Linked DNA regions of Homo sapiens. The gene in region 1 interacts genetically with each later gene. Each region holds a gene or a part of one and is shown on either strand. Other genes may lie near its edges.

Region 1 (11,420 bases):
TCCACGTTAATAAAACAGGGAACACACCAGAGGGCTCAGTAGAGAAAAACACATCATAATGACTGATTTATAATTTTTATAGCTTTAAAATAATAAATTTATTTTTTTCCATTAAAGTATTATAACACGATTACAAAAAGCCTATGAAAAACAGAGGAGGGAAAATATCTGAGCTGCTGCCACCCCACCCAAACAATCCTAGTGAAGCCTGTTGAGCTTTCTCTTCATCTCTTCCAGGCATATAGTTGCAATGAAAGTAAACAAACCAGCAGTTTCAAGAGGGATGAGTGCTGGAGCTAGATGCCCAACTCCTGCCTTCTAAGGCAGAAACACGGACCCAAGAGCTGCTTCTCTCCTGGCACAGCTGATGGAGCACTTTCCCTTGGGACAGCCGTCTGTGCCTGCCTCACCTGTCCTTGCACTCACAGTGTTCCCCACTTCCTTCCCTCAGCAGCACTGCCATCCCCAGGCAAGGATTGAAGCCAGAGGCTTGGCAAAAAGAGCAACCCTCTGATACTCCAAGTTCAAACTGCTTCCTAGCTGATAGTGAGAGGCCACGTCTATTCTGATTTTATCAAGACAAAGACCCAAAATACCTAGACCTTCACACAAGACAGTGCAGGCTCTCTTGTTGTTCATTCACCAATGACTAGCATCTGGAAGACAGCTGAGTCTGTGGACCAAGGGCATTTCCCTATTATTATTTTGATTTTATTTGTTTATTTGCTTTTTGAGACAGGGTCTCACTCTGTCACTCACGCTACAATGCAGTGGTGTGATCACAGCTCACTGCAACCTCAAACTCCCTGGGCTCAGGTGATCCTCCCACCTTAGCCTGCTGAGTACCTGGGATTATAGGCATGTGCCACCACACCTGGCTGATTTTTACACTTTTTGTAGAAACAGGGTCTCACCATGTTGCCGAGGCTGGTCTCAAATTCCTGGGCTCAAGCAATCTGCCCACGTCAGTGTCCCAAGGTCCTGGGTTTGCAGGTGTGAGCCACCACACCTGGCCTTATTATTTTATATTATTTATTTGCAAACATCATGCATTGTAGCATTGTTTGTAATAGCAAAACAACCTAAATATGCAGCAACAAGGAACTGGCTAAATAAAGCCTGCCATATCCATTTAATGGTCCATTATGCAGCTGCAAAAAGGTATCGGGAAGCTCTCTACCTATTGATAGGATAAGAATTCTGGTATGATACCATGTGTATCTGGTATTATCCTACCTTTGTGAAACACAGAATGCAAAAGGCAAATATCTATAATAATATTTGCTTGTAATTACATACATTCTGGAAGGATATATAAGAATTTAAAAAAGAGGTGGGGCACGGTGGCTTATGCCTGTAATCCCAGCACTTTTGGGAGGCTGAGGTGGGTAGATCACTTGAGGCCAGGAGTTTGAGAGTATCCTGGCTAACATAGCAAAACCCCATCTCTCCTAAAAATGCAAAAAATTAGCTGGGTGTGGTAGTGCGTGCCTATAATCCCAGCTACTCAGGAGGCTGAGGCATGAGAATCGCTTGAACCCAGGGGGCAGAAGTTGCAGTGAGCCGAGATTGTGTCACTGCACTCCAGCCTGGGTGACAGAGCAAGACTGTCTCAAAAGAAATTTTTAAAAGATAGTTATATGGGCATAAGAACTGGGGGCTAAAGTGGGAGTAAGACACTATTGATCACTTTCTATGTTTTTATTTCTGACTATGTGATTGTATTATGCACACATATATTAAAAAATTCCTCTTTTTACTTGAGGTTGTGTATATAGGAATGCAGTACCCAAGGCAGTTAAGAGTCAGCTTTTAGGCTGGGCACAGTGGCTCACGCCTGTAATCCCAGCACTTTGGGAGGCCGAGGCGGGCAGATCATGAGGTCAGGAGTTCAAGACCAGCCTGGCCAATATGATGAAACCCCGTCTCTACTAAAAAATACAAAAATTAGCCAGGCGTAGTGGTGCGCGCCTGTAGTCCCAGCTACTCGGGAGGCTGAGGCAGGAGAATGGCTTGAACCCCGGAAGCGGAGGGTGCAGTGAGCCGAGATCACGCCACTACACTCCAGCCTGAACAACAGAGCGAGCCTTCATCTAAAAAACAAACAAACAAACAAACAAAAAACAGAGTCAGCTTTTAATCTTGCCCCTAATTTGCTGTGTGTAGCCTTGGGTAAGTCACATCCTTTCTGGGTCTTAGCTTCGTCCTCTGTGAAAAAAAGGGGGTTAGACTCCATGCTCTTGCCTGGCTCTAAAACTCTGAGACTCTTAAGTCCTGTCTCTTCCAGGAAGCCTCTCCTGATTGCCTCAACCTACAGCACTCTCTCTCTCCTATGGGTCATGCCATGGCAAAAGCTAGGCCCCTACCCACCACCAGAAGACCTGCTGTCCATGAAGGACTGGCCAGTCCTGGGCCAGATCCTTGATAGGCTAGGCGCATGCAAACCTGAGTGACTAGGCTAGGGAAGAGACCAGATGCCAAGTCCAGGAAGAAACCGAGGATGCTTATTCTGGTGGAAAGGAGCCATACTTGTGAATGCCAAAGGGGGCAAGTCAAAGGGACACCACTGCATTTCCACTCGGAAAAGCACTTTCTAAGTCAGAGCAGTCCAGAGTTGGGAGCAGCTGCCTCTAGAATGAGCAAGCTTCCTGTCCCTGGAGATGTGTACATGAAAGCTGGACAGCCACAGGTCAGGGGTGCTGCAGAAGGAATGCCAGCATTAGATGGGACATGGATACCTTGAACCCTGAGACAGTCTGCTTTGTTACATGTATGGTGGCCCTGGAATCACACCAGCAGAACCCGGGCAACTGGGATCGAAATCTGACTCCTGGCACCATTCCCCGTTCCTTTCCAAGAACCATCTGTGGGGAAAGAGCAGGGGAAGGCCCACCTATTCTGACTCCAAGAGAAGGCTCCCACATTGGGGGTAGGGTGTAGGAGGGGAGAGGACATCTGCACATCCCTCAGGACTGCTGACCCTATATCTAACCATACATCTGACAACCATAGTTTCTCATGGCTGGAAGGCACTAATATGCCATCTAATGCTGGAATTCCCTCTGCAGCAGCCCTGATCTGTGGCCGACTGTCTACCCCACATCTAACCCCCACTGAACCTGGCTCATGGCCCATCAAGAGCAACTTTGGCATTTAGGAGCCTAGAGTCAGAGCCAGCTAGCCAGCCAACCCTTCTTTAATGTCTTCCTTTACTTCCTCTCACTGAAATTTCCAGTCCAGCCACTTGCTGTCCCTCACTCAGACGCTCTCCCTGCACACACAGGGACAGCAGGACTCACAACCTGCCTGACCTGCTGGGCCCCACCACCACCCCTTCAGACCTCAAACCCATCTCACCAGGTCAACGTCAATAGGGTCCCTGGGAGTGCTGGCAGCCTCTGGGCTGGCTTTCTTGGATACAGCTGCATCTGTAGAACACAAAGAAGGTCACAGGCAGGTCAAGGACATGCTGGTAAGGGACATCCTGACCTGGGACAGTGATAGAGAGGAGGTCCCTGTTGCTTTTCCAGGATACCTATTTTCCAGGGCATCCCAAAGCACTGGACAACTCCCTGGAGGGGCAGCTGGAAGGAGAGCTCTCTCGAATGCAGTGGGCAGGAACCCAGCCAGAAGGGAAAAGGAGGTGGCATTAGAGTGCTTGCTTTTGGCTCCAAACCCCAAGTGTACCTCTCTCCATCTCTGAGCCAACAGCAAGGCTAAGTGTGCGCAATCATAAAGCCATCACTACCGGCTCACTGACTCTCTACATATAGTGAGAGCTCCATGATCTTCCTTATCTGCAGCCTGGTTTTTATTAAATCTAAATCTCTTATGCTTCAGAATAAAATAACCCTTCTCTCTGCTATTGCCCAGTTATAACACCCAAGGCAAGCTGTGTAAACTCTGTGGGGTCATTTCCTTAATATGGGTGACATTCACTACCTAGGTGGAGAAGGCACAGGTCCAGGCCCTCTAAGATTATCCTTCATGACCCATGTCCAGCTCCAGGAGAAGTAAATAAGCTCTTTGTCACTGGCACCCTACCCAGGTGCCTTCAGATTCCATAGCCTCCCTCCCCTTTCCCAGTAAGGGCATCCTATACTAGCTGCTCAGAGCTCACATTCCAGCTTGGAGATTTAGTCAAAGACTCCTGGAGACTCTCTGGCACACTCCCCCTACCCCTTATTTTGAAAGCCCCCCTGTTCCAGCTAATACACAGCTGCTACATCTCCCGGATTTGGATTGCAGAGCTGAGCACTGTCTCATTCTCCAGCTACGTGAAGTGGCTCTGGCTCCTTGAGATCAGAAACTAGTCTGTGTCTCCTTACCTCTCAAGCGTCCAACACTAGGCAGGGCGCGCAAAGGTTGGCAGACAGCAGGTCATCCTGCAGACAAGGGATCTCCTCCACTGAGCCACTGTATGGTTTTGGGTAAGCATCCAACCATCCCCAGGAGGTTTTCTTAGCCCCCTTCTACCGTAACCCCAGGTCCCAATTGACTTCTCTGTTCCGAGACACCGGTGGCTTAAGAGAACCTCCTGAAGTGCTTGGTCCCTCTGGCGCCAAAATGATACTGGGTCTGATTCTCAGCTTTGCAGTTTTTCAACTTTCACGTGTTCCCCATGAGTCATCGCTAGGTCAATCCACAGAGTCTTGTAAATTAGTAAAATGTGTCCCCTCTGGGTGGCTGCAGCCCTTTGTCAGGGCCTCATCTCCCCCTTATCCTGTGCCCTGGAACCTAAGACCTTACCAACCCCCAAAGACTGAATAAACACCCAGTTTTCTTTTCTGTCAAATGGAGATGATCTCTTCTGACTCGCCTTCCCTAGGGTGCAGCAGAGGCACAGGCCGCCCAGGAAGGTGGCGTGCGTGCTTACCTTTCCCCTGGGTGATGCAAGAGCTGAGGTCCTGCAGGCGCACCTTGAACTCGTCGAAGCCATCGGTGCGCACGGCAGCTTGCAGGCTCTGGGGCTCCTCCTGGCGCAGGCGGCAGAGCGCCTGGCGCAGGAAACCGTGCATGTCCAGCACCTCCTGGTCCGAGGCGTAGCACTTCATCCTCTGCACCAGCGCGCTGCCCGTGCGGATGCGCTGCAGCACAGCATCCAGGCGGCCCAGCCGACTGGCCATCTCCTCGTAGTCGCGCTGGTACCGCGCGTCCACAGCCTCCAGCAGCTCGCGCTCCTGAGCCCGCACGTGAGCTACCACCTGGCGCACGCGCTCGCGGATCAGCTCCTCGGTCTCGGCACGCGCGCGGCCCAGCTGGCCGACGGCCGCGTGCATCTGCGCGTGAACCGCGCCAAAGGCACTATCCTGCTCCTGCAGCGCCTGCGTCATGGCGTCCAGCTCCTCCTGTCGCTGCTGGATCTCTGCGCTGATGTCGCACTTGAGCTCACTGTGGCTGCTGTCAAGGAGCGCGCACGAGCAGCACAGCGGCTTGGAACATCCTCGGCAGTAGATGCTGTGGACACACAAGGTTGGCCTGGGTTAGGACTCTCCTGACTTTTTCCTCTTAAAACGTTCGTTATTAAATTCCTCTTCCAAAAATACCAGACTTTGAATCATGGCATGTTTCTAGGTTTCTGCTTTTCCTAATTCAGTGTTTGTGGTTATGGTGATAGTATCCAAACTACCAATAACACATGAGTATAAAAAGTTACTACAGTAACAATTTCAACATCCGGGAAACAATACAAAGATATACGAAACGACAATCATCTCTTTCCACCACTTCTGAATTTCCCTTCCCCACCGAGGAAGCACCAGGTGAGCATCGTGGGGTGCACCCTTCCACACATCTCTCCACTGAAACCGCCTTACACAAATGCCAGACTGGGCTGCTGCTTGCAGGATGGTACAGACTTGACACATGTCAGCCATGCCACTTAACCTTTGCAAGAGCCCCTTGAGTGAGAATTGTCGTTATACATATTTCCCAGAGGAAGAAACAGAACATGTTAAATGATTGACCTAGATATCTACAATAATTTTGGGGGCTGATGTTTGTTCAAAAAAAAAGAAAGAAAGAAATCGGCCGGGCGCGGTGGCTCACGCCTGTAATCCCAGCACTTTGGGAGGCCGGGGCGGGAGGATCACCTGAGGTCGGGAGTTCAAGACCTGCCTGACCAACATGGAGAAACCCCGTCTCTACTAAAAATACAAAATTAGCCGGGTGTGTTGCCGCATGCCTGTAATCCCAGCTACTCAGGAGGCTGAGGCAGGAGAATTGCTTGAACCCGGGAGGCGGAGGCTGCGGTGAGCCCAGATGGTGCCATTGCACTCCAGCCTGGGCAACAAGAGCAAAACTCCGTCTCAAAAAAAAGAAAGAAATAAATCAAGTCATATAATTACTTTGAACTTCCTCCTCTCAACGAACTTTCACTCAGAGCATTCCTCTAGGTGCATAGGCACAGATCAGATGTATTCTCTTTAATAGCTCTGGTATATCCCAGATGGGCCACAATTGATTCAATCACTGTCGTTTTGCTGGCATTCAGGTAATTTCCTGTTTGTGCATTTTCTTTCTTTCGTTTTCCTTTCCTTTTTTTTTTCTTTTGGTGCCAATATGGACAACACTTTAGTAATATCCAAGTTATATAGCCTAATCATGGAAGCTTTTGTTCCTATGAAATAGATTATAAATATAGGCCTGCTAGATCAAAGTGTTTGTATTTTAATATTTTTATTTGGTTATTTTTTTTTTGAGATGGAGTTTCGCTCTTGTTGCCCAGGCTGGAGTGCAATGGCACCATCTCAGCTTACCGCAACCTCTGCCTCCCGGGTTCAAGCAATTCTCCTGCCTCAGCCTCCCGAGTAGCTGGGATTACAAGCATGCGCCACCACCCCGGCTAATTTTGTATTTTTAGTAGAGACGAGGTTTCTCCATGTTGGTCAGGCTGGTCTTGAACTCCCGACCTCAGGTGATCCACCCGCCCCAGCCTCCCAAAGTGCTGGGATTACAGGTGTGAGCCACCGTGCCTGGCCTGGTTAATATATTTTAGCTAGCAGATACTTCCATAGCATTTATTGTGTCTCAGATACTATTATAAGCATTGGCAAATATTTACTCATTCAATCCTCCTGACAATCCAGTGGAATAGATACCATTATTATCCCCATTTTAAGGATGAGAAAACTGGTGCAAGAGGCAAAATAATTTGTTCAAGATCACACGATTAGTAAGTGGTAGAGTCTAGATGCAAACTGTAGTAGCAGAATAGTGGCCTCTAAAGATGTCCACGTGCAAATTCCTGAGACCTGTGAATATGTCACCTTACTATGGCAAAAGGGTCTTTGCAGGTGTTATTCAATTAAGGACTTTGAGATAAAGAGATTATTCTAGATTATCTGGGTGGGTTCAACGTAATCACGTGAATCCTTTCAAAGGAAAGGGCAGGGAGGCAGGAGAATGAGAGGAGATGTGATGTGATGAATGCAGAGGTGGGAATGTTGTGATGTTGCCGGCTTTGAAGACAGAAAGGGGCCATGCACCAAGGAATGTGGGCAGCCTCTAGAAGCTGGGAAAGGCAAGAAAACGTTCTCCCTGAGAGCCTCCCAAAGGAGCAAAGCCTGCTGACACCTTTATATACCTCAGTGAGACCTGTTTCAGACTTCTTACCTCCAGAACCATAACAGAATACATTTACATTGTTTTAAGCCCCTAAATTTGTGGTAGTTTGTTACAGCAGCGAAAGAAAATATAAAAACCCAGGCAGTCCAGCTTAGAGTCCATGTTCTTAACCATTACAAGGCTGCTTCTTCAAATATTACCAGGGAAAATACTGTTAGTTCCCCAGAAATATTGCTGTAATTTACTCTCACCGGCAGTGATAAGAATAAGTCTTGGTGGTGTGCGCCTGTAATCCCAGCTACTTGGGAGGCTGAGGTGGGAGAACTGCTTGAACCCAGGAGGTGGAGGTTACAGTAAGCCAAAATTGCACCACTGTACTCCAGCCTGGCCAACAGAGCAAGACTCCATCTCAAAAAAAAAAAAAAAAAAAAGGAATAAGTCAGCCCACCTGAGGCCAGAAGAAAGGGTCTCATCTGGGACTACACTGAGATCAACTTGTTCTGGAACCACCAACAGAGAGCCTACTAGCCAGCCAGACTGATACATAGTGCTCATCAATGCTACGTTTAATTAGAAATACTAAGCAATTATGAAAAGAACTAATAACTCTACAGAAGGCAATTTGGCAATACCCATCAGAATTACAAATGCATTTAACCCAGCAATCCTCTTTCTTTGGATCTGCTCTGCAGCTCTATCTCTACACATAACAAGATGATATCCATACAATATATTCACTGCAGCACAGTCCACAATAGCAAAGAATTAGAAGCCACCCACGTGTCCCTCACAAGGCAATTAGTTACATAAATTATGATCCACCCATACAACGGAATACTATGTAGCTGTAAGCCATTGAGGAAGCTCTTTATATACTGATAAGGAAAATTCTCCATGGAGAAATGAGGTTAATAATAGGAGTACTGGAAGGATTAAATGAGTTAATATATGGATAAAAGTTTGAAAAATGACTGGCATACAATGAGTGTTCAATAAATGCTAACTATTTGTATTATTATGATATATATTTTAAGTTAGAAATCAAGGTGCAGAAATGTGTGTATCAGATGCTACCTTTTGTGTAAGAATGGGGAAAAATAAGAATATCTTCATAGTTGATTGTATTTGAATAAATAAATATTAAAAGGACATGCAAATTAATAAAAGTGGCTATGGGATGGGTGGAATGAGGGTAGAGTAAGACATTCACTGCATACCTTTTTAGATTATGTTTGAGCCTTGTGAATGTATGAATGTATTCCTTTTTTTGAAATTAAAAAACAGAATACTAATAAATGTGGGCAATTCTATAGGGTATAGGAATAAAGGGAAGAGAATAAGAAACAGTTGTTATTTTCCCCCTTTGGATCTTGGACACTTGGGGAGAGGGGCTGTGTCTGATGTTGGATCCCCTTCCTTGGAGACAGGGTTCCAAGCCTGGAAGGGCACGCCTCAGGCAGCCTGGCTGGATAGAGAGCAAGACGTTCTGGATGGCCATAGCCTCCGCTGGGTCCTTTTTCTAAGCTTCTTTTGTCCTGAATGGGGTCTCCCTAGGGTGACTGGCCCCTGCTTTCCCTCTAGATGGAAATGGGCGGCAAGTGTCTGTGAGGTGGCTAGCCTGAATCAGACACCTGGGTCTAAAAGCCCCCAGCCCTCTGGTAAGACTGAGGTGCAGATCCTGAATCAAAGGGCTGCCACCCAGGGCCAGGAATGACCTTAGCCAAGCGGTTCCTTTACCTTCATTCAGAGGACACTCACTGAGTACCTGCTGCGTGCTTGGCACTTTGGAGGAGGCAGAGGTGAAGTGGGAAACTGCCCAGAAGGGCTCCGTGACAAGAACCCAGACTTAACCGTATCTTCAGAAAGGCGAAATAACATCTATTTGCTTCTGGAATACTCAAAACAATAAGCAAAAACACCACTAACTTAATAAGAAATTGCTCACCAAAGTGGCTAGATTACATAATAATTAAGAAAGAAAAATAGCATAATTCTATCTTAGCAAAGCAAATGAGAAGAAATATGGGAAAAAAATCCATCTTCCCATTCACAGCAGCTATTTAAAAAATTCTACAAAGCCATGATTGTGTGCCTATAGTCCCAGCTACTAGGGAGGCTGTGGTGAGAGGATTGCCTACACCCAGGAGTTCCAGGCCAGCCTGGGCAACTCAGCAAGAACTCCATCTCTAAAAAACTTTTTTTAAATTAAAAAAAAGAAGGTACAAAATACCTAGAAAATGACAAAAACCTACTAAGAGATAAGACTAAATATTATAAGATTATTAATTCTCCTTGAGTTAATAAACAGGTTTAAGGCAATTTAAATTATTTTTGAAACTTAACCAAAGTATTCTAAATTTCTTTTCTTTCTTTTTCTTTTCTTTTTTTTTTTTTTTGAGACTGAGTCTCACTCTGTTGCCCAGGCTGGAGTGCAGTGGCACAATCTTGGCTCACTGCAATCTCTGCCTCCCTGGTTCAAGTGATTCTTGTGCCTCAGCCTCCCAAGTAGCTGGGACTACAGGTGTGAGCCACCATGCCTGGCTAATTTTTTTTGTATTTTTAGTAGAGCTGGGGTTTCACCATGTTGGCCAGGCTGGTCTCGAACTCCTGATCTCAGGTGATCCACCCGCCTCAGCCTCCCAGAAGTGCTGGGATTACAGGCGTGAGCCACCACGCCTGGCTAGGTTTCTAAATTTCATATGAAGGAACAAACAGATAAAATAGCTAAGAAAAAAATTTTTAATTTTATAGAGACAGAGTCTCAACATTTTGCCCAGGCTGGTCTCAAACTCCTGGGCTCAAGTCATCCTTCCACCTTGGCCCCAAAAGTGCTGCGATTTCAGGCCTAAGCCACTATGACCAGCTGCTAAGAAATGTTTGAGGAATCAGTGTAAGGAAGGGATAACACATTATAGAAATGCCATTATTAAGAGAATATGGTACTAGTTCAAGAGTCAAGAGAAGGATCAGTAGAACAGACCAGATAGGCCTGATGTAGTCCCTGGCATCTATAGAAATGTAATATTTTATATAACAAAGAAAGCAACCCATCTTTTTCTCTTTTTTCTTTTTGAGAGAGTCTCACTGTGTCACCCAAGCTGGAGTGCAGTGGCGTGATCTCAACTCATTGCAACCTCCACCTCCTGGGTTCAAGCGATTCTCCTGCCTCAGCCTCCCAAGCAGCCGGAACTACAGGTGTACGCCACCACACCTGGCTAATTCTTTTGTATTTTCAGTAGAGACAGGGTTTCACCATGCCGGCCAGGCTGGTCTCGATCTCCTGACCTCAGGTGATCCGCCAGCCCCTGCCTCCCAAAGTGCTGGGATCACAGGCGTGAGCCACTGCGCCCAGCCAGCAGCCCAAACTGATGGACATTAAAGGGGTTTTCAACAATTGGAATCAGAGAAATTGGCTAGGGAGGAGGGTAGGGGGCAGGAATGAAGTTAGAGCCTTGCTTCTTGTTTCATACCCATATATGCTTCCAATGAATCACAAAGTTAAATGTGTAAAATTACATCTCGAAGGAGAAAACACAGTGGACTATTTACTCTCACCATAGTAAAGACACTATAATTACTGAAGAAATAAAAGAAACCATACAATCAATAGATGCCACTGCCCGGCCGGGCGCGGCGGCTCATGCCTGTAATCCCAGCACTTTGGGAGGCCGAGGTGGGTGGATCACGAGGTCAGGAGATCGAGACCATCCTGGCTAACATGGTGAAACCCCATCTCTACTAAAAAATACAAAAAATTGGCCGGGCATGGTGGCATGTGCCTGTAGTCCCAGCTACTCAGGAGGCTGAGGCAGGAGAATGGCATGAACCCGGGAGGCGGAGCTTGCAGTGAGCCA
Region 2 (12,109 bases), on another chromosome or scaffold:
AAGCAGCTTGAACAGAGCTTGTGAACACCGAGGCCGGACTTGAAGCCTGGCGTGTCCGAAAACTGCAGAGCCCGCCTCCGTGCCGGTCCCTTTCCTGCCCCCACCCCGCGCCTCGTCCGCCAGGCCCTCTGTTGCCTACGTGTCTCCGTTCTCGTCCTGCGCCGTCAGCAGGTGGCGCTGTCCCGCCAGCAGCGCGCGCGCGTCCGCGGTGACGCCGTAGTCGAGTAGGGCTCGGGCGCTGCGCTGCGCCAGGCCGAACAGGCGCGCGTTGTACTCTCGAGCTACGGGCCACAGAGGGCGTGGGTCAGGGCTAGGTCCTCAGCCCCGGCGCCCCGACCGCCCGTGCCCCGGAGTCCATACCTCGCTGCAGCATCTCCGGGGCCTGCGGCTCGCACTGGGGGGTCCTGGAGGGGGCGCTTGGCTCCGCGGCTTCCTCCCCGGAGTCCCTGCTGGGCACCGTGGCGGCCATCTGCGCCCCGCCCCCGCCTCCCGGGTAGCAGCCCATGGGGCCCGCGCCGGACTGGTAGGGGCTGTAGGCCAGGGAGGAGGGGAAGAAACCGAGGCTGCCACCTGTGGATACAGGCAGGGCTGTGGGAAGCGGGCACCAGCCATGACTCTCCCAGATTTTTTTTTTTTTTTTTTGAGACGGAGTTTCGCTCTTATTGCCCAGCCTGGAGTGCAGTGGTGTGATCTCAGCTTACTGCAACCTCTTGTCTCCCAGGGTTCAAGCGATTCTCCTGCCTCAGCCTCCCGAGTAGCTGGGATTACAGGCGCCTGCCACCATGCCCAGCTAATGTTTGTATTTTTAGTAGAGACGAGGTTTCACGCTGTTGGCCAAGCTGGTCTTGAACTCCTGATCTCAGGTAATCTGCCTGCCTTGGCCTCCCAAAGGGCTGGATTACAGGCGTGAGCCACCACGCCCGGCCTCCCCCAGATTTTTTTCCTCCACAGCTTCTCTTACCTTTACCCCTCCCTCCATCAGTACCCCCTCACCTCCTCCAGCTCCTCCGTAGCCCCCGGCTGCACCCCCAGAGCCTCCACCCATGTGGGAGCCACCCCCGAAGGGCTGGGAGAAGGTGGGCAAGGCCTTCCTCCGCTTCCGCTGCACCTCTTCCTTGTCTGGGGGCAGAGGAAAATGAGATTGAGCCCAGTTATTGTGTCATGCCTCAGGGGCCCTTCCCAGAAGAGCCCTCAGGGCCGGCTCCTAGGAAGCACCTCCTGGGACCCTCGCACTTCTGACTTGGCTCATGCATCCCCACATCTAGCTCTTGGGACCTTCTTCTAGCCCAGCCTGGCCCCCCGCCAGCACCCTGAGGTCCTCAGCCCAGCTCCACCTTCCACCAGAGGGTAATAGGTGAACTGTTTGGAATCAGACACGTCCCCTCCTCGCTTGCGTTTCAGTTGCAGAAACACTGTTACAGGCCGCTCAATCTTCATCTTGTGATAGGGGGGTGTCCGGAACACAATGGCATACTGGGGGGTGCAGGGAGACACAGGGTGTCAGTGAGTCCTTAGCCTAATTTAGCCCCCAGCCCGGGCCCGGGCCCTAGCCCTGGGTACCTGTTTATGCACATCTGTGGGAGAGAAGTCCCCAAAGGCCTGCCATCCATTCTCATCATCCTCATAGAACCGAACCTCAATGTCATCTACAAGGAAAACGGAAGCTTGGCCACAGCTCCCGGTGGAATCTCTGGGGCCATTTACCCTAGAGCTTCCCTGGCCCCAGTCTTATACTCGATGTCCTTGGTGCCCAAAGTGGGCTCCAGTCTCACCTTTCTGCACCTTGTCACAAAGCAGATAAACTTCATCTCCACCCCGCACAGAGCCTGCTGTCTTGTCCATTCGAGAAATCTTCAGGTTTGATGCCCCCGGAGATTCTATGGAGTGGGATATGGATTAGTTGAGATGATGCAATAGCCAAGGCCACATTTAAGAAGCTGGGGGCTTTGTATTCCTTATCTCAGCAACCCCTGGAGCTGCAGGAAACACCCAATATACACATTTACTAAAGACAGAAGCTTCGGGGGGGAAATGACTTGCTCAGGATCACTCAGCTCATATGTGGCAGGGCCAGGTTCTGAAACCTGGGTCTGTTTGACTGCACAGCTTGAGGTCACCCCTCATGCCACCTCTGCCACCAGGCCTGGCACCCCAGGCAATCAGGATACTCACTGCTGTCATGGATGGGCTGGGAGATGACTGGCTTCAGGGGCAGGGAGAAGGAGCCATCACTGGCTCTAAGGAAGGCAGAGAAGCGCAGCCGCACTATACTCAGATCCATCACCTTCTTCAGTTCTTTGGCCTCTTGCTCCAGCTCCCGCTGCTCGGCCTCTGGGCAGTAGGTACATGTGTGACCCCTGGGCTTCTCCCTCCCTGCTCCTTCCATGAGCACCTCCCATGACCCACCCACCCCCTGCACCCATACCCGACCCACCCCCTGCACCCATACCCGTAAGGCCCTGGGGCCTAGAGCGGAGCCGCTGCCTCTGAAGTTTTTGTATCATAGTCCCCATCATGTTCTTCTTAGTCACATGCAGGACACCCAGGTTGTTAAATCTGAGAAGAGAGAATCGGAGGCCTTTGGCCATGCAGTTCTTTCTTCCTGAGGCACCTTTCCCATTGCCAGGGCTCAGCTCAGCCTTACTTCCTCAAGGAAGCCATTGGAGTTTCTACTTAGGCCCTTGGGTTTGGGGCCAACCTACATCTTTCCCCTTGGTCAGATGCTAAGCTCATGGAGGTGGGCTGGGGCCTGGGACTGGCAGACGGGCATACCAGTGGGGGCCAGGCGTAGAGGGCACCTACTGGGCAGTCATGTCCTTGGGCCCCACAGAAACGGCGCAGATCCCCAGCTCCGAGCATTGCTTGCCCACCAGACTGTGGGCATGAGCACGAGGTGGGTCACTGTGTGTTACCAGGTCCACCTCGATCTTGGCTGGTCCCTCGTAGTTACAGATCTAGGAGAGGCAGGGACTGTCAGTCAGGGCCTTGGGCATGCTGTCCACTTAGCCCACCCTCCAGCACCATCCTGGCTCACCTTGACAGTGGGATAGGTCTTTCGGCCCTTCTCACTGGAGGCACCGGGCAGTCCTCCATGGGAGGGGCCTTCACAGCCATATCGAAATCGGAAGCCTCTCTGAAGGTCCAAGGGCATAGTAGCATTGTGATCAGGGAAGACCACCCAGGCCAGCAGTGACCGCAGTGCCTGGTAGTAGCCCTGAACCAAACTACAGCACTCTGATCAGCAGCAGTGACCATCCAATCCCCTGTGGCCTCCTTCGGCAATGGCTCCTCCATGGCCAGCCAGCTACCACTACCCCATTTGTCCCCAAAGCTGAAGCCATTCCACACCCTCCCTTTTGCTCACTCACCTGCTTAGGCTGTTCCACGATCACCAGGTAGGGGCCATCAGCTGGGGACAGAGAGACCTTGCTGAGCCACGATCTCCCAGCCCCTCCCCCAGAGAGAGGGCACATGCTCTCCCTCCCCCGCTTTAGGACTAGGGGAGGTTAGTGAACTTGCTGACCTGTTTCTGGGGCTGGCTCCTTGGGTTCCACAATGGAGGAGTTCAATTTGAAATCATCATATTCAATAATACCATCCAGACCCTGGTTTGGAGACAGACTGGGGGTGGCATCCGACTCTCAGCACCCCCCACAGCCCCACCTCCCATCTCCAAGTCTTCAGTGGTCACTCCCCCCTCCTCCTCAGACCCAAGAGAAAGCTCCTTTTGGAGGCAGAGTTGCAGACAGATGGACAGACTGGCAGGCTGAGAGCATCTGCGAGCATACAGGTGTAAGGCAGCAGAGGGGGCTCGGGCAGACAGGTGGACAGACACGAGGGGCAGCCGGCCGGGTCAGGGGCAGGCGGCATGACTCACTGGGTTGTAGCAACTCTCCATGTCTCTGGGCTAGGCCCGGCTCTGTCTAGTGGCTCCGGCCAGGTTCTGCTTCCCAGAATTTTAGACGCCCGCCTAAAGTTGGGAGGAGTGGCGTGGGGGAGGGGGTCAGATCTAAATGGGGGTGGGCGGGAGATGGGGGCCCAGATTTGGGGGAGGGTCCGACCTCCTCCAGCCGCCTGTCCGGGTGTGGCGGGTGAGATCCGGTGGAGAGCGAGATCCGGAGTTGGGCTTGGCCGGGGAAGGGGCAGGAAAGTTAGAGCAGCTTAGGAAAGTCCCGAAAATACCAAGGGGAGGCGGGGCCGGAGGGGGCGGGCCTGGAAATGACGCCACTGGCCCCGCCCTCGCGACGGGAGGGGCGGGAGGCCCTCGACAGTCTACGGGCTCCCGCTGCTTTTCAGCGGGCAGAGGTCTAGGAGAATCCGGGAAGCCCCGGTGGGGGTTAAGCCCCCTCCTCCCTCCAGGGCAGGGAACAGGAGGGTCTTTCACGGCCGGGAGGAGGCTGGCAGTCTGGGGCCAAGTCCGCCTCCCGCTCCCCTCCCCCGGTCTGGAGCAACCTTGGGATTTTCTGCCAGGAGGGAGGCCACGGCTGATAAACCCCGGGGGCTTTTGGGGGGACATTCCTGCTGTCGGACGGCCTCCCCTTCGAACAGCCTGTAGGCGGGGGCTCTTTCCTGTGGGAGGCCCCGGGGTTCTGCCCCGAGAACGCGATTCTGGGGCTGCGGGAAAAGTGTCTCCTCCTCGGAGTGGGCTCTTTTCTCTCTCTCCCAAACCTCACAACAGCAGCTGGTCCCACACCGCACCGGTTCTGGGCGCGCAGGCGACAGGGAGATCTCTGCACGCTCCCCCCCCCCCCCCCCCACCTAATACAAGAGTGTGTCTCCATCACAGCTCCACAAGTGTGTTTCGGCTGTAGTGCTTGGTTGCATGTTGTGTGTCCATGGCGTCAACATGAGTGTGCAAGCGAGCATGTGTGTAGATAGGTGAATCCCGAGCTTCTCAGTGTGGGTGTGTGTCAGCGCCTGTCTTGATGTACGGACACGGGTGAGCGTATCTTGAGTTTGTGCGTGAAGGGTGTGGGTGCAGGCACCAGTGCACCGGTGGGCACGTCTCCGTGTGCATGTGTGTGCGAGTGCGACTGCACGGACGCTGCCGTGTGTGCGCCAGCACAGGTACAGGTGTACGTACGGGTCCGCGTATCTTTGTACAACGGTGTCGACGTGGATCCGAGTGTCGTCGCCTGCGCGCCCTTTCCGGCTGTGTGCAGCTGCTGCTCTCCAGCCCCAGGCGCTGTCCGCTAAAGGCCCTCCTCCCTCTTTTCTCTTGTCCCGGCCACCCAGGGGTCTGAATCCAGCCACTCACCGTGGCGGCGGCTCTGGTTGCGGCTTCTCTCCGCGCCCGACCCACCTGGGACCGGTCGCGACACCTCGCCTGCCAGCAGGGCTCAGGGCCGGGAAAGCCCCTTCTCGGCCCCCCGGAGGGGGGAATTCCCATGACGTTTCCGTGCGTCACGCCTCGCGCCCTTTTTCATTGGCTGAAAGTTTAACTCTGGACTGGCGCAGCCAACCCGGAGCGACTCGGGCGCGCCCCTGAGAGGGGACAGGCTCACTCAGGGCGGGGAGCGGGGTGACAGGACACCAGGCGCGAGTTCGGCCGGCCAGGGGACCGCCGAGAAGGTACCCGCTGACCCAGCGCCACCCCGGGCCGGGAGCTTCCGCTGCCTCTCGGCTTTGGCTGCGCCTAACGCTTGGCTTTCTCTGAAGCGGGGGATCCCCAGGGGGAAGCCGACGGCCCCAGCCCTCGGGGCCCCCACCCTGAGCGGCGCGCTGCCGGGAAGTTAGCGGAAGAGGAAGGAAGTTATTCTTGCGGTCGGTCCCGGGCGCCCTCTGGCGGCCTCCCTGGGCCCGCGAGTAGACTCCATTCGGCCCCGGCCCCTCTCTCGCTCCGTCTCATCAGCCTCAAGGCTCCGGGAGAGACAGTCCGGACCTCGAACTTTTTTAGAAGTGACAGGTTCCCAGCGGGCCAGGGCTCAGGAGCTCTGCTCAGGAGAAGGGAAATGAAGTGTTTATCCACCAAGGAGATCTGGAATATTAGAACTGAAAAAGGCATCCAGAGTTTAAACAGCTCAAATTTCCACCGATGTGGGAAATCGCCTCTTTTTTTTAGTCTCAGGCTGGAATGCAGTGAGGGGATTTTGGCTCACTGCAACCTCTGCCTCCCGGGTTCAAACCATTCTCCTGCTGCAGCCTACCGAGTAGCTGGGATTACAGGCGGCCACCACCACGCCCGCCTAATTTATGTATTTTTAGTAGAGTTGGGGGTTTCACCACGTTGGTCAGGCTGGTCCCGAACTCCTGACCTCAGGTGATCCGCTGGCCTCCGCCTTCTAAAATGTTGGAATTACAGTCGTGAGCCACTGCGCACGGCCTATTTATTTATTTATTTATTTATTTATGTTTTTGAGACAGTGTCTTGCTCTGTCACCCAGGCTGGAGTACAGTGGCGTGATCATGGCTCACTGCAACCTCGAACTCCGGGGTGCGCCGATTCTCTGACTCTCCTGAGTAGCTGGGGCTACAGGTGCACACCACCATACCTGGCAAATTTTAAAATTTTTAGTGGAGATGGATCTCACTGCGTTGCCTAGGCTGGTCTTAAACTCCTGGGCTTAAGTGATCCTCCTACTTTGGCCTTCCAAAATGCTTGGATTTTGGATTACAGACGTGAGCCACTGTATGCTGCCGAATTGCCTCTTATAGACCTTCCAATTTCCACCTGAACACTTCTAGAGGCAGCGAGGTCAGGACAGAAATTCACCAAGCACGGAGTACATGACTGGACCTCTCTCTGGTCAGTAGCGTTTCTCCTTAGCAGGTGCCATGAGTAATCTCCCTGCCTGGAGTCCTCCTCCCTTAGGCTTATGGTAGAACATAAACTATCTCGGGTCTTTCCTGCAGCTTGCCCCAGACGTTTTTAAGAACAGAATCACAGGCCTGCACTGGCACTAAGTAAAGAGAGACTATTATGGCTCTCGATTTGGGCTGTTTCCTATTACTTCCCCACCCCTCTTCATCTTGCCTGCAAATATAGTGTCCTAGTTGCTAGGTTCGGGTACTTTAGAAGTTCTTATTCTCCCTCCCAACAACCCTAGGAGGTGAATATTACTTTTACTGATGAAGAAATTAAGGCTCAGAGAGGTGGAGTAACAACCAAACACACAGCTAGAAAGGGACAGAGCCAGGATTCAAACCCAATCTGTTGACTCCAGGATGAAGCTTTCTCCCCTAAGTTTATATAAAACAAAGCAGCCCTTTCCACCTTACTGTGGGCCTCTCAAACAAATATCATAAGATTCTGCCAAACAATTTGCTGAAATCCAGATATGTTGTCTACTACGTTTCTCTGGTAAGTCAGATTCCTAACCTTAAATTAAAATGGACTAAGGCCGGGCATGGTGACTCACACCTGTAATTTCAGCACTTCAGGAAGCCAAGGCTGGTGGATCACTTGAGCCCAGGAGTTCGAGACCAGCCTTGGCAACATGGTGAAACCCCGTCTCAAAAAATTGAAGGGGTGGGTTGCCCCTCCACACCTGTGGGTGTTTCTCGTGAGGTGGAATGAGAGACTTGGAAAAGAAAAAGACACAGAGACAAAGTATAGAGAAAGGACTCGAGGAACCAGCATTCAGCATATGGAGGATCCCGCCAGCCTCTGAGTTCCCTTAGTATTTATTGATCATTCATGGGTGTTTCTCTGAGAGGGGGATGTGTCATGGTCACAAGACAATAGTGGGGAGAGGGTCAGCAGACAAACAAAGGTCTTTGCATCATAGACAAGGTAAAGGATTAAGTGCTGTGCTTTTAGATATGTATACACATAAACATCTCAATGCTTTACAAAGCAGTATTGCTGCCTGCATGTCCCACCTCCAGCCCTAAGGCGGTTTTTCCCTATCTCAGTAGATGGAACGTACAATCGGGTTTTATACCGAGACATTCCATTGCCCAGGGACGGGCAGGAGACAGATGCCTTCCTCTTGTCTCAACTGCAAGAGGCATTCCTTCCTCTTATACTAATCCTCCTCAGCACAGACCCTTTACGGGTGTCGGGCTGGGGGACGGTCAGGTCTTTCCCTTCCCACGAGGCCATATTTCAGACTATCACATGGGGAGAAACCTTGGACAATACCTGGCTTTCCTAGACAGAGGTCCCTGCGGCCTTCCGCAGTGTTTGTGTCCCTGGGTACTTGAGATTAGGGAGTGGTGATGACTCTTAACGAGCATGCTGCCTTCAAGCATCTGTTTAACAAAGCACACCTTGCACAACCCTTAATCCATTTAACCCTGAGTTTGACACAGCACATGTTTCAGAGAGCACGGGGTTGGGGGTAAGGTCATAGATTAACAGAATCTCAAGGCAGAAGAATTTTTCTTAGTACAGAACAAAATGGAGTCTCCTATGTCTACTTCTTTCTATACAGACACAGTAACAATCTGATCTCTCTTGCTTTTCCCCACAAAAATACAAAAATTAGCCTGTCTCATAACTAGGTCTCTAAATAAATAAATTAAAAATTAAAAATTAAATGTATAATGGAGTAAATTCATCTTGGTATACTCTAGCTTAGTAAACCCGTGCTGGTTACCACTGATCACATCTATCCTTTCAAAGTGCTCATAAATTGCCACCAAAATCAGCACGGATTCTTTGAGTCTCCACAACATCTCTAAAAGCACCCCTAAGGGTTGAGCTATTTTAGTTACAACAGTCTAAGGCGTAATTTATCTAAAGATGAACAAAACAAGACCTTTATTAGAGAACATTTCAAACATACAAAGATTTTCACTTTGGGAGGCTGAGGCAGGCAGATCACTTGACCTCAGGAGTTTGAGAACAGCCTGGGCAACATAGGGAGACCTCATGTCTACTTAAGTTAGCCACATGTGATGGTGAGTGCCTGTAGTCCCAGCTACTCGGAAGGCTAAGGTGGGAGGATTGCTTGAGCCCAGGAAGTTGAGGCTGCTGTGAGCCATGTTCGTGCCACTGCATTCCATCCAGCCTAGGTGACAGACAGACGCTGTCTCAAAAAAAGAAGAGTGGAGAGAATAGTATAATGAGCCCTCGTGTGCCCCTCTGTCAGATTCAACAATTCCTAATGCATGTTAGCCTGGAGATTTAAACTAACTCAAAATAGCTTGTCACTTGCTAGAGCCTCATCTATCTGGGCTTAAGAAACCTCTTTGTTAGGCTGGGCACAGTGACTCATACCTGTAATCCCAGCACTTTGGGAGGCTAAGGCGGGTGGATCACTTGAGGTCAGGAGTTCGAGACCAGCCTGGCCAACATGGTGAAACCCTGTCCCTACTAAAAGTACAAAAATTAGCAGGGTGTGGTGGTGGGCGCCTGTAGTCCCAGCTACTAGGGAGGCTGAGGCAGGAGAATCGTTTGAATCTGGGAGGTGGAGGTTGCAGTGAGCCGAGATCATGCCACTGCACTTCAGCCTGGAAAACAAAGTGAGACTCCATCTCAAAACAAAGAAGAAAGAAAGAAAGAAAGAAAGTTCTTCATTGCATGTTACACTAATTTTCATCCTAATCGTCATCTGTTTCCGCACCCAGCTCTAGCACAATGCCTAGCCCAGAGCAGATGCACCACTAATTTATTCCATTCATTTACCGATAAATAGTGAGAGCCCACTCCATTAAACAACACCGCTGCTTGCAGGCAAAACTCAAACAGATATATATCAGTTGGTAATAAGTGCTACAAAGAAAAATTAAGTAGGTAAAGGATTGAGAGTGACAAGGATTTTCTAGGTATCAGTCAAAGCAGGACTCTCTGATAAGGTAACAATTAAACAGTGACTTGAAAAAGTGAGGGAGTGAGTCATGGGGAATATCTGGAGGAAGAGTGTTCCAGGTGGAGGGAACAGTAGGGCCAAGCTCTGATACAAGTGTTTGGCATATTTGAGGAACAGCAAGAAAGTTAGTAGGTGGAATAAAGTAATAACTTTGGGTTTTGTTCTGATCAAGATGGAAAGCCGTTAGAGAGTTCTGAGCAGTGGAGTGAAAATTGTATAATGTATCCTTTTTTTTTTTTTTTTTTTTGAGAGAGGCTCTCATTCTGTTACTCAGGGTGGTGTGCAGTGGCGTGATCATAGCTCACTGCGGCCTCAAACTCTTGGGCTCAAGCAATCCTCCCACCTTAGCCTCCTGAGTAGCTAGGACTACAGGCACATGCCACCATGTGCAGCTAATTTTTGCATTTTTTTGTAGAGATGGGTTTCACCATGTTGCTCAGGCTGGTATCCAACTCCTGCGCTCAAGTGACCTGCCCACATTGACCTCTCAAGGTGTTGGGATTATGGGTGTGAGCCACCATGCCCAGCCTAAATTTTTATTTTTTAGTTTTTTTTTTTTTTTTTTAGAGACAAGGTCTTGCTGTGTTGTCCAGGCTGGGGTATAATGTGTCTTAAAAGGATCCATTTGGGCTGCATGCCTGTAATCCCAGCACTTTGAAAGGCCGAGGCAGGAGGATTGCTTGAGCCCATGAGTTCGAGACCAGCCTGGGTAACATGGTTAAACCCCTTCTCTACAAAAGATGCAAAGATTAGCTGGGTGTGGTGGCATGCACCTATATTCCCAGCTACTCAGGAGTCTGAGGTCAGAGAACTGCATGAGCCCAGGAGGTGAAGATTGCAGTGAGCCTAGATTGTGCCACTGTACTCCGGCCTGGGCAACAGAGCGAGACCGTCTCAAACAAACAGAAAAGGATCCGTTTGGCTGCTGTGTAAAGACTATCGAATGCAAGGACCTAGGAGGAAGGAGGGAGACCAGGAGTCCAACAGACAGCGGCTGAGGCTTGGGTGCTAGTGGATGATGAAGGTGGTGGGAAGTAATCGCAATTCTAGATAGATTTAAAGATAGAAGTAACAAGACTTGCTGAAGATTAGATGCAGGATGTGAGAAAAGAGGGGGTTTTGGCATAAAAAGAATGGAATTGTCCTTTAGTGATGTGGGGCACACTGAGAGAGGAGCAGATTTGTAGGGGGTATCAAGAATTTTTCCTTTTACTTATTTTTATTTCTCTTTAATTATTATTATTATTTTTTTTTGAGACAGAGTCTCACTGTGTTGCCCAGGCTGGAGTGCGGCGGCGCCATCTCGGCTCACTGCAATCTCCGCTTTCCGGTTTCAAGTGATTCTCCTGCCTCAGCCTCCCGAGTAGCTGGGATTACAGGCACCCGCCACCACGCCCGGCTAATTTTTGTATTTTTAGTAGAGACAGGGTTTCACCATGTTGGTCAGGCTGGTCTTGAACTCCTGACCTCGTGATCTGCCCGCCTTGGCCTCCCACAGTGCTGGGATTACAGGCGTGAGCCGCCGTGCCCAGCCTTTTTTTTTTTTTTTTTTTGAGACAGTCTCACTCTGTTGCCCAGGCTGGAGTGCAGTGGCACAATCTTAGCTCACAGCAACCTCTGCCTCCCGGGTTCAAGCGATTCTCCTGCCTCACCCTCCTGAGTAGCTGGGATTACAGGCCCCTCTCAATGGGAGCCCTGGGGCTGAGTGACTCTGCTCATTCACAGCCACTTGTCTTCCAACCAGTGAGCCCTCAACAAAGGTAAATACCCATGGCTCCAATAACCACAGCTTTTGTTGTTCCTAGTATTTTTTTCTATTTGGTGGCGGGGCAGGGAGGAATGCCCATTGTAGCTCATTCTATATTTTGTTCTTTCTCATATCATTATGTGTGTAGAAAATTCACATATTTTTCTTGGTTGTGGGCATCTGTTTCCAGTTTTTATAAACTCCTACTAAACTCTGAGCTCACTAGGTAATAACCTGTTTCCTCAGGTACTTAGCCTTTTATTTCACATGAGAAGCTACAGAAAATGTGTTTAGCTTTGGAGGGTTTCTATACCACCACCACCACTACTTTTATTTATTTATTTATTTATTTATTTATTTATTTATTTATTTATTTATTTGTCTGAGACAGAGTCTCGCGCTCTTGCTCAGACTGGAGTGCGGTGGTGCCATCTCGGCTTACTGCAACCTGTGCCTCCCAGGTTTAAGCGATTCTCCTGCCTCAGCCTCCCGAGTAGCTGAGATTACAGGTGCCCACCACCACTCCTGGCTAAATTTTTTTTTTTTTTGAGAGGGAGTCTCGCTCTGTTGTCCAGGCTAGAGTGCAGTGGCACAATCTCAGCTCACT

What was found.
Region 2: changes in PML (region 1) and NFKB2 together harm fitness more than expected from each alone (negative genetic interaction), as found in Homo sapiens cells (one study listed by BioGRID).

The regions. Positions count from the first base shown.
Region 1 is NC_000015.10:74,016,865-74,028,284, reverse strand, and holds part of PML (protein PML), read right to left. Parts: intron 5,458-11,420; coding exon 4,877-5,457; intron 3,429-4,876; coding exon 3,358-3,428; intron 1-3,357.
Region 2 is NC_000010.11:102,387,749-102,399,857, reverse strand, and holds the start of NFKB2 (nuclear factor NF-kappa-B p100 subunit), read right to left. Parts: upstream 4,154-12,109; 5' UTR 4,062-4,153; exon of another isoform or gene 3,971-4,061; 5' UTR 3,899-3,970; coding exon 3,878-3,898; intron 3,606-3,877; coding exon 3,524-3,605; intron 3,410-3,523; coding exon 3,369-3,409; intron 3,134-3,368; coding exon 3,035-3,133; intron 2,955-3,034; coding exon 2,803-2,954; intron 2,557-2,802; coding exon 2,450-2,556; intron 2,332-2,449; coding exon 2,173-2,331; intron 1,878-2,172; coding exon 1,773-1,877; intron 1,647-1,772; coding exon 1,561-1,646; intron 1,474-1,560; coding exon 1,335-1,473; intron 1,120-1,334; coding exon 994-1,119; intron 571-993; coding exon 361-570; intron 282-360; coding exon 140-281; intron 1-139. UniProt on the Homo sapiens protein: NF-kappa-B is a pleiotropic transcription factor present in almost all cell types and is the endpoint of a series of signal transduction events that are initiated by a vast array of stimuli related to many biological processes such as inflammation, immunity, differentiation, cell growth, tumorigenesis and apoptosis.